Linked DNA regions of Homo sapiens: region 2 is linked to region 1. The links come from fine-mapping of genetic effects on gene expression. Tissue or cell type: tibial nerve. Region 1 holds a variant in brackets; the other region holds the start of a gene. All regions are shown on one strand. Distances are between the middles of the regions.

What was found. PIP is the estimated chance that this variant, and not a neighbour inherited with it, causes the effect.
Region 2: it holds the start of AP5M1, and the variant in region 1 is fine-mapped to the expression of AP5M1 in tibial nerve (GTEx, PIP above 0.99). The same link has a PIP of 0.9 or more in aorta and transverse colon.

The regions. Positions count from the first base shown.
Region 1 is chr14:57,184,974-57,189,326 of GRCh38, forward strand. No RefSeq gene overlaps it. Among named protein-coding and RNA genes, the nearest start is that of EXOC5, 82 kb to the right of the region's middle. The variant G/A (reference allele first, on the strand shown) is at 1,871.
Region 2 is chr14:57,266,847-57,271,022 of GRCh38, forward strand. AP5M1 (adaptor related protein complex 5 subunit mu 1) reads left to right here and starts at 2,125. Exons shown (of 8, transcript NM_018229.4): 1 at 2,125-2,542. The coding sequence starts at 2,469. EXOC5 (exocyst complex component 5) reads right to left here and starts at 2,059. Exons shown (of 18, transcript NM_006544.4): 1 at 1,776-2,059. The coding sequence starts at 1,802. RefSeq lists a silencer at 1,490-1,549 and enhancers at 1,859-2,442, 2,090-2,289.

The DNA.
Region 1 (4,353 bases):
GAGATCTTTGACTGTCAAATGGACTACTTCTCTTGGCCAGCCTAACACCTTAGCTTACAAAGTCAGGAGCTCTCTTTGTGAGAATAAGGATGGAGCAAAGGTACATATCAAAAAAGTGCCTCCACAAAATCTTCCAGAGGTCCCATCTAGAACTTCTAGGAAACCAGAGAATCCTACATTTTAGCTGTACTCACTGCACTCCCTTCTTCTTGCCTTTGAAACAGAGGTCTGCTTACTGAGAGTTAGGCTTCGAGAGTGGCAGAAAGAGCAATCCAAGAGGATACCTTCGTTGAAAGGAAATTGCCAAACAGAGTCAGTTATTCCATGTCTGATGCAGTCTCTTCAAACAGACCAGTGGTTCTTAAACTCTTCTGCACATTAGAATCACCTGGGAGCTTTCAAGAGTCCTGATACCTGGGCCACACCCCAAATCAATTGGATCAGAATCACCAGGGATGGGAGCCCGTGGCATCAATATCTTAGGGATGCTAAAAATACCACAGAAATGTGTTGCCCATGAACTCAGATTATGGTTTTTGCGGATTCGTTTTTAAACTACCACAGGTGATTCCAATAAAAAGCCAAATTTGTGAAACCACTGAATAGGTCTGTGCAAATGATTTGCATAGTCACAGTCAGATTCCATTCTCCCCCAGACAAGGCTGGAAATAAATCTTTACTGTCTTTTTCTATCTGCCATCCTAATTAGGGGGTTTCAAGGTAAGGAAGGTTTGTATTTATATTTATATGCCAGACACAGAAGAGGCCTGTATGTACTTTGTCTCCTTAGTTCTGGACACAGTCTTCTCATCCCGATTCATAGGACTGAGCTACTTTAAAGTACATGTGTCAACCACAACCCTCCAGTTCTCCTTAATCAGAAACTCTGAGATTGGATGCTGGGTATCTGAAGATTTTTTAAATTCCCCAAATGAGCTGATTCAAAACTAGGGCTAAGAATCTCTGAGCCAAGTAGATCACTGGCATTTGAGACATTTTGTGGCACTTGTCATAATATCATTCTTTATTCAAGGCCAGATTATAGGGTGGTTCAATCAGACAAATACCTGTGGCACTTATATATTAGAAATGCTCAAACAAACAAACAAACCAAAACAAAACAAAAACAAAAACCATGGAAATATATTGTCAGTGAACTCAGTTCTTTGTCTATGCATCCTAACACAAAGGACAAAATATAACATGGTTCCATTTCTACTAAAGTAGATCACCTTTCAGAAGAGATTAAAATGGAGAAGGGAAAAGAAAAGAAAACAGGCCGGGCGCGGTGGCTCACGCCTGTAATCCCAGCACTTTGGGAGGCCGAGGCGGGTGGATCACGAGGTCAGGAGACTGAGACCATCCTGGCTAACACGGTGAAACCCCGTCTCTACTAAAAATATCAAAAAATTAGCCGGGCGTGGTGGCGGGCGCCTGTAGTCCCAGCTACTCGGGAGGCTGAGGCAGGAGAATGGTGTGAACCCGGGAGGCGGAGCTTGCAGTGAGACGAGATCGCACCACTGCGCTCTAGCCTGGGCGACAGAGCAAGACTGCGTCTCAAAAAATAAAAATAAATAAATAAAAACAAAACAAAACAAAGCAAGACAAAACATCCTTGCCAGTATTGATCACTCCTCACTAAACAAATGTTGAACCATGATTTTCAACACACTTGGTGCTTGCATATCTCAATCCAGCCCTAATACCATGTCTTATTTTCAATGATGGTATTTGGATTGGTCATTCTGAGGGAGACCGTATGATAAAATAACAAAGCCAATAGCATTGCCATTTATTGAGCACTTGCTGTGCACCTGGTGGTAGGTGCTTACTGTAACTTCTTACTTACCATAGCTTCTTTCATAGAGGG[G/A]AAGCATTCATCCACTCATTCATTCAAGTATTGACTGCCTCCTATAGAAAAAGGCAGTAGATTATTTAATATTGCCAAGTACATAGGCTTTGGAATGAGACAGCATGGGTTTGATGCCTGCGCTGTGAGCTATTGGTTGTTACCTCTTCTGTAAAATATGGATAGCAGTAAGATTACCATAAATGAGTGACTCATTAAAGCACTGAATGCAATGTCTGATAACTATTCAGTAAAAGTAATAACATCAGAGATGGTCATTGCTCCTATGTGTACTATGTGCTAGACACATGCTGGGTGGTGGGTACCCTTATCTCATGAGCAAATTCAACCATCCGTTTGTTTATTCATCTATTTTAGTAAGTCATTCAGTCAACAAACCATTTTTTAATGCTGTGCTAGACTGTGAGAGCTCACTAGACTACAGGTAAGGAGCAGACAGACAGTAAACAAATCATGGAAACTAGAGGTGATGAGAGCTGCGTGGACGGGTGTGTGTGTGTGTGTGTGTGTGTGTGTGTGTGTCTGTGTGTGTGTAGTGCCCTGGCAGTGGAGAGGAAGGGGCCAGGACCTTGGGGAGGAGGCAGTAGCCAAAAGCTTCATGGAGACACTTGAGCAGTTTCTGGAAGGAATTGCTGCAGTGCGAGACCTGAGGGTGGGAAGTAGGTAGGAGAAGAGCATTCCAAGCAGAGGAAAAACCATGCAACAGTGTAGGTTTCTAGGATGATAGCCATCGCTGGCTGGAGAGAAAGGGCCTTGACTTTTCTCTGGATTTGGCAGTCTAAGGGGTTAGGATTTGATTTTTGAGCTGCAGATTTAGATCCAACTACTATACTCCTCTATATCCAATCTTCATTAAGATTTAATGAATTACCTATGTAGTCCTTATGAATTAATTGAGCAAAGCTGTAGGCAAGTAGTGTTTTCACTGTAGCAATCACTCAGTCATTTACTGGCAAGAAACTATGAGTACAAAGGCAAAAACAAAATTTGGTTTGAAGAACTATTTTGCAATGAATATATCAATAAAATTTTCCTACTATCTATCAGTTGGATTCATTAGCTTTTAAATATCAAATGCATGATTCTACAGCAAAACGGGCTTTTGAAATGTTAACAGAAAGAGGTATTATCAACATGCACTTATTAGGTTAGAATATATTCTAAACACAAAGGATCCCATCACTGGGGTTTTCATAGAAAGCTCTGCTGACGCAGCTTACAAAATACAGACCAAACCTGTAGCAGGTTGTGTCACTCACCCGACTCCAGAGGAACCCACTTTGAATGCTTCTACACACTCCTAGCAGCCAGAATGTCTCCTGGGAAGTACATTTTAGCCCTTATATCTAAATCCTTGCAACAAAATATAAGAAAAAAAAATAGAAGACGATGCCCAATAGTGACTGTTGGGAATGAAGGTCATGTTTATTTTCTTTTCATACTTTTCTGTACTTTCCAAATTTTCTGTAATGAATGTATTTAACTTCTTAAACATTCTCCAAAAACTACATAATTTAAAACATCATGAGAATACAGGAAAGACACTTGGGCTTCACATGTAGTCTATTTCGCTTTGTCGAATGGAACTGTGACAAAGACATTGACCGCAGTGCTTAAGTGCCTCAAAAAAAATTACTCCTGTTTCTGCTGTAAAATTTGTTAACTTTCACTCCTGTATATTTTCCTTTCTTAATGACATCTTGTTTTGGAGTTTATGATTTAACTAATTTTATTTTAATGTGTGATTTTAAATCAAATTATTGTCACAGCTGATAAAACAATTGTAATATAATGGCTTAACATTGATCTATTCCTTAGAAAAGCTTTGCAAGAAACCTAATAGGAGCAAGAGACTTGGAGGTAATTCATTAAAATTTCTCCAAAGAACTTATACCGAAGCACATGAAGTCAATAATGACAACATTTTAATCATTTATAAATACCAATAGCTAATATCATAATTTGATAATCAAATCAGGATTAATATAATCTTACAGACTGCTTCTTAAGAAATTAAATTATACAGAAAAAAGTCATCTCCTGGTCATACTCTTACACAGCAATAAATATTTTAATTGTAAATGTGCCTTTTAGAACCTTTAAATTTCAAAAAGATGAGGAGGAGGACAGATCCTGTGTACTTACTAATCTGTAAATAGAGTACCAGGCCAAGAATCAATTCTGAAATGCGGCATCAATTGCACAGGCTTCCACTTAGTTTTAGTTGAATAAAAGCCCTACTAGATACGCAAATAACATCAAACTTGCAGGATTAAAGAGAGGCCCCTCATACTCTAAATCATGATTGTCAATCATCACCCAGGATTAAGGGATATATTTTTAAAACCTAAAAGCAAGCGCCTCCTTTTAACTTCTGCCTACTGCGCATTTTGGATTATCGCCCAGAAATAGTATTACTTGAAACAAGACTGCCTCCCTCCTACCATCTATGAGAAGTGCATTGTTACCATCTGCTGTTGTCT
Region 2 (4,176 bases), 82 kb after region 1:
GGAAAAAAAAAAATCAAACATATTTCCAAATAAGTTACTGAAATCATGTGGTCAAACATTTAAATAAAAATATACATAAGATGGTCCAAGGTACAACTGGAACTGTCAAGCAGGATTAACTCAAAGGATAATGTCTTATGAACTGTATGACAACATATATAACAGTTTTCAGTTAAGAGCTGGCTTGCCGGCAAATACCTTAATTAAAGATCTCATACAACTTCATCGTTTTCTCCCTTTTTAAGATGTGAAAAATAAAACAAGGAACCACAGCACTACTTAGTACCTAGGGACACAGTAAAAGTTCCTAGCAGGAAAAATGTCTCCCCGTTCTTGTGTCAATAAACAGATGGCACAATTTTGGAATTACAGAAATTAATGTAGCATATCTCCCAACACTTAAGTGAGAAAATACAATATCTCTGAAGTCTTTCTTGTAATTACAATCCTTCATTCACAAATTACTGTCTTATTACAACTTATTATAACAATAACATATATTACTCCTCTCAAAAAAAGCATTATCTATCCAAAAGCTGACTGATATGCAAAATATAGTAACAATAACAAATGTAAATTTCCATTTGTTATTAAAACTGTGGCATTCAAATTGTAAGCCACAAAAACTGCTGAATCTTACGCAGAAAAAGGATACCATTTTCACTTATGGAGAAGTTCCCTATTGTGGATTACAGTCTTCTCAATTATTACACTTTTGTTACTCAATGTGAAACACAAGCACACACACAAAAAAGGGGTCTTTCTTTCCTTTTTCTTATCCGTTTTCATTTCTTTCACACAAGGAGATGCTTTATACGTGTCATTGTTTTGTAGCCTAATTAGAGTTTTCCTATTCTATTATCTCAAACTTTTATCACAGCTTCTTACAACGGACTTCACGAAATTAAATTTTAAGGTTTAGATACTGTAAACGCTCGAGGAAAGACATTAGTATTCTCACTATTACATATTAAGGATTCTCTAGCTTGCAGTTAGGTGATTTTATAATACATGTAAATGCATATAATACACTTAAGGTGCATTATATACATGAAACGAAGTGTTCGTTTTATTTTATAAACTTTTTTTATTTTATAATACACGTAAATGCCTCGAGTGTATTATTATGTATTACATGAAATAAAGTGTTCACTTGAATTTTGCCTCCCTTCAGTCTATCTCTCTTCAGTCGAAAGAGATAAGTAGGCCTTTATTGTCCAAAAAAAAAAAAATTGTCCCAGCCTTTTCAAATGTCAGGTTAAACTGGCAGTCCTATGAATGCCACCTGCAACCTTACTAATGGAATAATTACTCAAAACGAGAAGCCCCCAAGAGTCCCGATCTCAAGTGGCTTCCTCCTATTATTCCCGCGAGGACCCCAGCGACAAGACTCGCCCAACCTGAGGCTCCTGGCTCTCTTTCCTCGTCCTGAGTCAGCCCTTCCCACTACTCATCCGGAGTAGACATCTTCCAACACCCGAACCTTCCAGACTTTCCCTCTTGCCCCCACAAACAAAAGCAACCCTCCTCCCTTGGGACACCCGGCTTCCCCTCTCTGCCGACCGGCCGCCCAGCCCACCTCGGCCCCAAGCACCCCTCCCCCATTTCACGCTCCGCCCGCGCTGACACGGAGCTGCCACCCCAACCCTTCTGTTTCGCACCTCTCTCCCGAGGGCTCCTCCTGGGCAGCCAGCAAACGCCCGCTCCTCGGCCCGCCCACCCAGCTGCCTGCAAACCCCGGGCCTGCCACTCCCTGTAGAGCCGCCGGGGCCCACCTCGAAGAGCTCGGCCGTGGTAGCCATCCCGGCCGGCTGAGAGGCTCGCCCCCCACTGGATGCCGTCTCCGCTTCACATGCTGCGCCTCAGAGGCGCGGCGCACAGGTCTCCGCTCGGCTCGCCAGCTCCGGCTCCGGGCCGCTGCGGGCTCCCCAGCTCCCCACAGATCCCAGGAGGGGCGGGAGAGCGGCCATGAAGCGAAGCCGCAAACGCTTGTCAGCTGCCTCCCGGCGCCGCCCGCGCTGCTCCCATTGTCACCGCCTCATACGCCGGAAGTGGAACTGCGCGCGCCAGGGAGGTTGTCGGGAGGGGCCGGCGAATAAAACGAGCGGCGAAAGAACCGAAAAAAGGCTCGACGCTACCGTGTATGAGGAACTTTGATCCTTGCGGGCCACCATTCCGGAAGTAGAATTTAGAGGAAGAAAATACCGGAGTTGCAGGGTATAGGTAAATTTCTCAAGGTTATAGGTTGGGGTTCTTAGAACTTTTTGTGGTGTGTGTTGGCCTAGAGCGACTCAGAAGCGTTAGTGACTTCACCTAAAAAAGCTAACCTCTCTGCTGAGCGCGACCGGTATGCGGCGCAGGATGAGCCTCAGGGCTTCTGTTAAGAGTCTGTCTGAGAAAGCCGGTCTGCGCTGTTCCTCGGTGGCGACCTTAATTATGAGATGAGCTAATGCTTTACTGACTTAACCATGGCGCAGCGGGCAGTGTGGCTCATAAGCCACGAACCGGGAACTCCACTTTGTGGCACCGTGAGATTCTCCAGGTAAATGCAAATCTGAATCCTCAGGGATGATGGATCAGAAGATCGATGAAGTAGCATAGTTTTGTGGTGCTTCGTGGCCCAGGTTTGCCACGAATAGCTGCGTGACCTTGGGCTAGCCAGTTAACAGACCTCTGTTTCGTCTGTTAAATGGAGATTTTAATAGTCCTACCTTACAGTGTTGTGAGAATTGAGTTGATGACTGGTACATATTATTTACGGTATATGTTTTCTATTAGTATTGTGTTTTAAAATGACCTCCGTCTGCTTAGAATTAAAATGGAGATGACTAAGGGAACGGTAGAAAATTTACTGAGCACTAAACATTTTCAGATTTTTCAACATGCATTGACAAAATCGTTCCAGAACATTTTAACTTATTCTACTGAAAAATCCATGCTAAGTTATATCAGACTTTTATTTTTTTGTTTTTATTTTTTTGAGACGGAGTCTCGCTCTGTTCCCCAGGCTAGAGTGCAGTGGTGCGATCTCCGCTCACTGCAAGCTCCGCCTCCCGGGTTCATGCCGTTCTCCTGCCTCAGCCTCCCGAGTAGCTGGGACTACAGGCACCCGCCACCACGCCCGGCTAATTTTTTGTATTTTTGGTAGAGAGGGGGTTTCACCGTGTTAGCCAGGATAGTCTTGATCTCCTGACCTCGTGATCCGCCCGCCTTGGCTCTCAAAGTGCTGGGATTACAGGCAGGAGCCACCGCGCCCCGCCCAGGCTTTTATTTTTATCTTGTTAATATGTGTCAATGGTAGAAATCATCAGTTTACAGTTCCTAATTGTTGAAGAAAATAGAAACACAAAAAAATGTATTCACTATTTCATATATTGTGTTAAGTTGATCTGGTCCCACTATTAGAATTTGCCCTGTGTAATCAAAATAGCTCTGTTAAGGGAATTGTACAGTAACTCATTGTAAAATGTTGGTGGCAATCGAGTGGGTCTATTTCACCTTTTATTCTCTGGCCATTGATAGTTCTTTTTTGTCACAATTCGTTCTTCCCTGAAGAAAGCTTATAGTGAAGTAGTACCATAGTAGAATTGAGATTGAGGCAGAAAAAAAAGATTTTAATTTTAAATGAAAATTGGTTGGCAATGGGGATATGAAAAATTCCTTCTTTGCAACCTTAACAGTTTTTGTTCCTGAGGGCATCAGAGTTGGAGTTTACCATTTCCCCCCAGGATTTCTGGCTGACACTAACCCCAACATTTGTTGTTGGACCTCAAATACAGGAGATTAATAATATTCTTTAGTACGTGGTTTTACCAGGCGCATCAGTCCGTACAAAGTATCTCTCATTTTACTTATATTCCCTTTGGTTACCTATTTCTAACTGCCGTTCCCTTCCCACTGACAGATAACTCTTAACATCTTCGATGTTACTCTTTTTCATTGTATGCATTTTTCAAATTACATAATTAAGTGTGCTTTAGACTTCACTTCCTAATGTTACATTTGTCACATTTCTCAACACTATTTTAAAGAAACATCCATGATACTTTGTGTTCATCTAAGGCAGCATGTCCAATAGAATTCTCTATGATGATGGAAAGGAGAAATGTTCTTAATCTGTACTGGCTAATACTGTAGCCACTAGCCACAAGTACCTATTGAGCTTTTGAGCTGCAG